2 linked regions of the Homo sapiens genome follow. The protein of the gene in region 2 purifies or fractionates together with the protein of the main gene of each other region. This does not show direct contact. Each region holds a gene or a part of one and is shown on either strand. Other genes may lie near its edges.

Region 1 (3,862 bases), on a different chromosome or scaffold from region 2:
TTGCTTGTGCTCAGGAGTTCAAGACCAGCCTGGGCAACATGGTGAAATCCCACCTTTACAAAAAATACAAAAATTAGCCAGGCGTGGTGGGGCACACCTGTAGTCCCAGCCACTTGGGAGGCTGAGGTGGGAGGATTGCTTCAACCTGGGAGGTTGAGGCTGCAGGAAGCCAAGACTGCACCACAGCACTCTAGTCTGGGCAACAGAGCAAGATGCTGTCTCAGGAGGAAAAAAAAAAAAAAAAGAACCAAAATGTTCAACACTGGGAGAATGTGAAGTGAATGACAATGCACTGCCGTAACAATGGGGGTCCTTACAGAGAATGTTTACTAACACGGGAAAATGCCCGGCACTGTTCAGCAGGGCGAGGATGTAACACCATGATTCCACGGTTTTTACTGTACAGAAACAGTTGAAGAAAAATCTCAGGTCTATTCCTTTGATTCTGAGAGTGAAATTATAGGTGTCGTTTCTCCTCTTTTAAATTTTCTGTAATAAATATGTATTATTTTCATCAGAGTGAAGAATCATCCAGCACACTGTTTCTTCTTTTCATATTACACAAAGCCAAAGAGCCTAACAAGGTGCATATGAATCCAGAACCTTTTCATTGTGTAAAAATTCCAGATATTTGGGCCAGGCGCAGCGGCTCACGCCTGTCATCCCAGCACTTTTAGGAGGCCGATGTGGGTGGATCACTTGAGGTCAGGAGTTTGAGACCAGCCTGGCCAACATGATGAAACCCCGTCTCTACAAAAAAAGTACAAAAATTAGCTAGACATGTTGGTGGGCACCTGTAATCCCAGCTACTTGGGAGGCTGAGGCAGGAGAATTGCTTGAACTCAGGAGGTGGAGGTTGCAGTGAGCCGAGATCACACCACTGCACTCCAGCCTGGGAGACAGAGTGAGACTCCATCTCAAAAAAAGAAAAAATTACAGATATTTAGTATTGCAAGAGACTTTTATGAAAGGTGCAGCAAAATGGATTCCATCCTGGACCAACCACACTAGCTCAGTGTAAACAGAAGACACAGCCATCCTGGACCAGCCACACTAGCTCCATGTAAACAGAAGACACAGCAAGAATTAGCTGCTGCATATTAACGACCTGAAAAAGGCACTTTAGAGACACATAATCTCATCTTGACTGAGGTTCTCCTAGAGAAAACAATCCACTTTACATCTGTGTCCTCAAAGAACAGCACTTATACTAGAAAAAGCGCAGGATGCCTCTGAGAAGCGCGGTGAGTTCAGAAGTCTGGGCGTCATGTCCTCTCATCCTGTGCTGCACGGTTCATGCCTTTCTTCCAGGTGTGGAAACATTCACTGCAGAAGTTCCTTCCACAGCGTGCCTGACAGCCAGCCACCTAGGGGCTCCCTAAAAAGCTTTCGTGACAGCTTAATGCTCTCCAAAGGCAAGCCTTCCCTTCCTGAACAGCTGCCTGCGCCTCCACCTCAGGGAACTCTTTCTCCTGCCAGTCCTAACTGTCTGCTGGTGTCACACAAAGAATGTCATCCTAACTCACACGCTTGACCACTGCCACTACGACCCAAAGTAATTTCAACAGTTCAGGGAGGACATATTTCCAGATACCCTGAAAATAAAAATCAATTCACATTCTATCAGTCTATCACTCTTTTCCTGAATAACTAATACGGTCTAACCAGGACGGACCACAGGGGACGCATCACCCCTTCCTAGACATTCTATGATCATCAAGGTGAGCTCCGTCTGTGCTGGCTCTGACAAAAGACATCACACTACTGGCTCAGTCAGCCTGGGGGCACCTAAATCCCCCAGATTTTCTGCAACCAATGGCAGAAGATTCAATGGCAACCAAGCTAGGTCTTTCCAATCTTGTCCTAGGAGAATTACTGAACCTAGTTAGCAAACTTTGCATTTATCTCTATTAAGTTTCATGTTTTTGGTGTTAGCCCAATGTTGAAATTTAAGATTTTTCTTTTTGATTTTTTGTTTTTGTAGGCATTTGTTTATTCCTAACTCCACAAACTAACTTTCATCATTATCATCAACTCAGCTTTAGGTTGCTGACATATTGAATCTGCAAGCCTAATCTACATCATTGCTGAAAGTGCCGACACTACTGGGCCCCTGGCTTACAATGGTATCTCGTAGCAACACACAACAGGGTGAGCTGCAGTGGGACAGAGCAAACCAAGAAGCCTGAGCCAGAACTTCAGAAACTCATTATGGTGACCCCAATGGCAGGGGACAGGAAGAAGAACCTAAAATTCATAAAGCATAGCCACAGACATCAAGAGGTGGTCTAAGCAAGCAATTCAGTATCAGGAGGTTCCACAAGAAGAAACAGGCTAGGCACAGGGGCTCACGCTTGTAATCTCAGCACTTTGGAAGGCCGAGGCAGGAGGACTGCTTAAGGCCAGAAATCTGAGACCAGCCTGGACAATACAGTTGTGACACCATCTCCACAAAAAATTAGCCACCATGGTGGCATGCCTGTGGTCCAAGCTACTCAGGAGCCTGGGGTGGGAGAATCTCTTGAGCCCAGGAGGTCGAGGCTGCAGTGAGTCATGATCGCACCACTGCAATCCAGCCTGGGTGACAGAGCGAGACCCTGTCTTTAAAAAAAAAAATGTTTTAAACCCAAATTACTTACCAAGATTATCCACAGCATAATGAAAAAAGCAACTAAATTTGATGTGCTTGTTGCAAACTATGTCAGGATTGGGAGTCCTTCCTTTTTCATACTCATTCAAAAAGTCACTAGAATAAAAGAAAATGACTTCAGTTCCAAGTGTGAAACATTCCTCAAAAAAAAAAAAAAAGTTCACTAAATTGCTTGTTTAATGTAATTTCCCCTTGTCATACCAAAACTATAATTTTCTGCAAAACAGGAGAACGTCAGTCATCGAACATTTGTTTATAACCTGCTGCATGGGCCACCCGACAAGGTGTTATTCTCTGCCACTACGGCTCAGGAGCCACCGTCTCTGTGTAGGCTCACAGGGCTTATGGGGTCAGGAGTGGGGAGTGGCCGTGAGGGTCTCACTAAAACCCTGCCTCTGGGACTCCTCCAACACAGCAGGGCTTAGGTGAGGAAGAGAAGATGCCTGAGTGACAGTGGAAATGAAATCCTTTAGACTTCCCTTGCAGATTCTCCCACCTCAGCCTTCCGAATAGCTGTGATTACAGGTGCGCAGCACCATGCCCAGATAATTTTTGTATTTTTAGTAGAGACGGGGTTTCACCATGTTGGCCAGGCTGGTCTCCAACTCCTGGCCTCAAGTGATCTGCCCGCCTCAGCCTCCCAAAATGCTGGAATTAGAGGCGTGAGCCACCGCACCTGGCCCACTGCAACCTTTTCTTTTTTTATAGAGATGAGGTCTTGCCATGTTGCCCATGCTGATACTGAACTCCAGGCCTCAAGCAAGTCTCCTGCCTCAGCCTCCTAAAGTGCTAGGATTACAAGCGTCTACCTTTCTGACTGTGGGTCTTAAGACCCTCCCCAGACACAGTCCCACTGTATATCCTGGGGGAAGGAATGGCGATGTCATGAAGCCTCCATAAAAACCCAGGAGTACTGGGTTCAGAGAGCTTCTGCACAGCTACACTTGTGGAGGCTCCTGGAGGGTGGTCCCCAGGGAGGGTGTGGACACTCCATGACCCTTTCCCCATACCTCACCCAACCCGTCTCTTCATCTGTATCCTTTGCAACATCCTTTATAATAAACTGGTAAATGTGTTTTTCTGAGTTCTGTGAACCACTCCAGCAAATTATTAATAATTGAACCCAAAGAGGAAGTTATGGGAATCCCAACTGGAAGCCAGTTGGTCATAAGTTCTAGAGGCCCATACTTTCGACTGCTGTTGTGGGGGGAG
Region 2 (3,755 bases):
TCAGACTGACAGCAGCACCCTGAGGATCCCCAGGCCCCCAGCCCAGTGCAGCCAGGCAGAGCACCTGAGGCTCGGCCGGGTGCAGGGCCAAGCCCAGGAAGCACAGCCAGCCAGCAGCAGCCTCACGACCCATGACCCTTTCCCCAGATCCGTGGGGCCCCTCCTACAAGCTTCCTGCGGTCTCCGCTCTGCCTCGGATCAGACGTGCAATGTGCACAGCCATCCAGTTTTCTGGGGCTTGTTACCCTCTGGTGGGCTCCAGGCCACAGCTGCAACTGGCAGGGAGTGTCAGGCAGGCGGGACTTCCCGGGCTGTGCTCGGTGGCAAGTAGTCAGCTGCCTTCAGTGGACCCAGAGTTTGGACTTGTTCCTTGGAGGAGGGAACCACGCTGAGCCTGGCGTTGCATACTCACAGCTTCTTGTAATCCTCAGTGGTCATCTTGTAGCCAGAGGAGGAGGGGCGGGGAGGACCAGCGTTAGCTGTTCTCACCAGACTGGCAGCACTAGAGAGGAGAAGGTTCCATGTGTCTACCTGCAGGCTCCCTCCTGCCTCCAGATTTGGCCACACAGCCCAGTGGACACATGAGAGGTGGACCAGGAGCTGCCTGGGAGCCTTTCCTCTTTGCTTTTGGCCCTGACAGACACCCGGAACTGCGCCACTCAGAGCAGCTGTGTAGGCAAACCCCACCGAGCTTCAGGGAACAGCCCAGCGGGCTCTTGCCTGTGTCTTTGCTTCCTGTTTCCGGGTCCCCTTGGCCTTTCCAGTCTGACGGAGTCCCAGGCAATGCCTGATGCCAAGGTGCTTGAATTGCATGCAACTTCAGCCTTCTCAATGCCATCAGCAAGTCAAGTCAAGGGTGCCCACTGCCAGGCTAGGGGGACTCTACACCCAGCCCCTCCCAAACTCCTGCACCTCTCTGTCCCATTAGCCAGGCCTAGTCAGGACTGACCCCAGGACAAGGACACTGTTAGTGGCCCAGGACCTCCCAGAGACCCACACATCCACTTGGGACTGCCAGTCCCACCCCAGCCCATCTCCTCTGGTCACCCCACCCTGCTCTCCAGGGTCCTGCCCTACCCAGGATGAAAGCTGGCACCTCCAAGGCCCCACAGTCCTGATAGGCAGAGCACTGTCTCTGCCAGGAGCCCAGACCAGGCCCTCACACCTCCCCACTGGCCGACTGGCCAACACCCCATGGACATACCTTTTTGGAGTCCCGTTGGCCTTGGGGAACTGCTGCTGGGGCTGGGAAGAGCTGTCTATGGGCTTGGTGAACACTCCCCTGAAAGAGAGCCCAGGAGATGCCGGTGAGCTCCCTGGAGGGACTGGAGGGGTAAGAAGTCAGGGCTTGGCGTGAGTGGGCACAGGAAGGCCGGCAGAGTCCTGCGGTCACTTACCGGATGATGTAGCCAGTGGGAGCCCTTGTGCTCGGAGGCCTGCCGAAGAGAAGAAGGGGTGGAGTGAAGCGAGGCTTGCTGGAGGGCTGAGGTCATCCTACTTTATCCTGCCCTTAACGATAGCAAATAAGATTGGCTGGCAAGTGCTCCAGGTGTCCCAGTACAGCAGAAACGAGGGGTGCCAGCCCCCTGTGCCCCTGATCAGGTGCCCGCTATGCTCTGCCTATTTCCCTCATGCTCCCCCAGGAAAAGTGCCCCAGGTGACTCCTCATGGCAGGTGCCTAGGAAGGCAGCTTGATGGCCTCTCCAAAGTCCAGCTTCTCCTTGGCCAGCCAGTTCCCAGTGCTGCGCCGACGGAGCACTGCTCTCAGCTGACAGCCCTCCCATCCTCTGTGCTTGGGGCTGAACCAGTGCAAGCTGGAGGCTCCCCAGTCAGAGCCAGAGGCTTCCCCTCAGCCCGGGGTCTGACCTGATCTCCCTCAACAGCCTCCACCAGGAAGGTGCATGAGGGCTTGAAGGGGAGAGCCCAGGCAGCAGCCAGCCGAAGCCAGCTGTCCCCCTTCCTGTCCCTCGGGGCCCTCTTTGCTCCAGCTCCTTGCATGCCCACACCCCAAGTCTTGGTGGAAGTTTGAGACGAGAGGGCGCGGCCAGGCCTTGTTCAGCGGCTGGGAAACATTAGGCTCTGGGTGCTTGGGACCTCCTGCTTGGCAGCAACTGAGGGGGCTCAGATAACTCAGGGGGCAGCCAAGACGAGCGGGCAGGGAGCTGACAGCCAGGGGTGGTCAGCCTGGAAGTTCTGGCCTCCGGGCAGGAGTTAGGGGCCCCTGCAAAGAGTCCTCCTCAGAGTTAGGGGAGGAGTCAAGGGGTCAGGGTAGACCCTTCTGTCCTGCAGTGGAGGGGATGTGGGCTGGAGCATCGGGGTTTGGGTCAAGGGCAACACAGAGCCTCCGGTAGTCTCCAACCCCACAATCTCCATCTCTAACAGGGGACAGCCTCCCAGAGGTGGCCATGTTGCAGGCACACTTGGGGGTTCTCGCTTTTGTATTGAACTGTTTACTAGGGTCCTGCCTGAGTCCCCTGCTGGGACGTCAGTTGCCCAAAGACAGGGCCTTTGTCTTGACCACTCCTGCATCCTCTGTGCCCAGCATGGGACCTGGCAGGTAGTGGGCGCTGAGTCATCGAGGGGTGACAGAGAGACCGTAGTTACTAAAGGTAGCCCTGTGTGCTGGCTGTAAACTTGAGGCCCTCCCTTCCAGAGGCCGCCACTGCCTCTACCACCCCCTGAGAAGCCGCCTGCCGGCTGTTTGGAGCAAGGAGCGAGCCTGAATTTCAGTTCCCTTTCTCTGTCAGGAGCAGTTCCTCCAGAGGCCAGCAGGGTGTGCCCACGCTTCAGAGCCCCCCTAGACACTGTTATGGAAAAGCCCCCAAAAGAGAGAGAAGCCAGTTCTCCTTGGTCAGCTGACAAAATATGTCACGGTAAACTTGGGAGACAGTCAGAGCAAACTCGTGCCTCTCTACAGGCATGCTGAGTCCCAAGTACACTCAAGCAGTCAGGGTGACCTGCAGGAGTGAGTCACTGTGACTCTGGAAGCTGCCCAAAGCATCTCAGAGGCAGTATCACTCCCTGCAGGGAATGGGTGGGAGGTCGTCTTCTTCTTAAAGACAATTTCAATCCCAGTTAACAGCTGGAGCCACGGAGGCCCAGCAGGGAAGTCAGCTGCCCCACAGCCACACAGCCAGGCCAAGGGCCTGGACCAAGTGACTCCTACACTCCCCTTCCCAAAAGGAAGGTGCAGTGGAGAAGCCCCTCCTTCCTGCAGATTTCAAATTACTCATTGCAGACCCTTGGCTGGGGCTGCATCCCTGTCCCCTGTGGACTGCCCACCCCTCCCTGTTGAGGGCTGGCCCCAAGCTGCAGGAGAGTCCCTGGGGCTGACCCACCAGCCACCTGAGCACCACCTCTTACCTAGGCTTCGGAACCTCCCCAGCTGATGAAAAGGATGTGGCGCGACTCCGGCCTGAGGGCAGCTCTCTGGGGGAAAGAGGCATCCTGAAGGATTGGCTCCGAGACTCCCTGTCACCTGCCATCCTGTGGCCTCCATCCTAGAGGCTGCCCAGCAAGTCCTGCCATTTCTGCCACACATTCTCCTTCCCAGGCACCCAGGGGCTCTCCCACCCTGTGACATTGCTGGATAGCCTTTCCCACGCTCTGCCCTCCACATGGCCTGGCGGAGCTCTGAATGGTGGAAGCCCCTTCGCATCCCCAGGTATGGTCGGTCCCCCACGGATTGCGCGCCCCCACGTTGCTGCGGTCCCTCCCCGCCTCCTTGCCTTACATGGTGCGACCCTCCGATTCAT

What was found.
Region 1: the proteins of ZNF185 (region 2) and TRMU purify together in Homo sapiens (affinity purification with mass spectrometry; one large-scale study listed by BioGRID and IntAct). This does not show direct contact.

The regions. Positions count from the first base shown.
Region 1 is NC_000022.11:46,342,146-46,346,007, reverse strand, and holds part of TRMU (mitochondrial tRNA-specific 2-thiouridylase 1), read right to left. Parts: intron 2,749-3,862; exon of another isoform or gene 2,747-2,748; coding exon 2,640-2,746; intron 1-2,639. UniProt on the Homo sapiens protein: Catalyzes the 2-thiolation of uridine at the wobble position (U34) of mitochondrial tRNA(Lys), tRNA(Glu) and tRNA(Gln).
Region 2 is NC_000023.11:152,914,812-152,918,566, reverse strand, and holds part of ZNF185 (zinc finger protein 185), read right to left. Parts: coding exon 3,734-3,755; intron 3,430-3,733; coding exon 3,364-3,429; intron 1,437-3,363; coding exon 1,398-1,436; intron 1,283-1,397; coding exon 1,205-1,282; intron 725-1,204; exon of another isoform or gene 503-724; coding exon 413-502; intron 1-412. UniProt on the Homo sapiens protein: May be involved in the regulation of cellular proliferation and/or differentiation.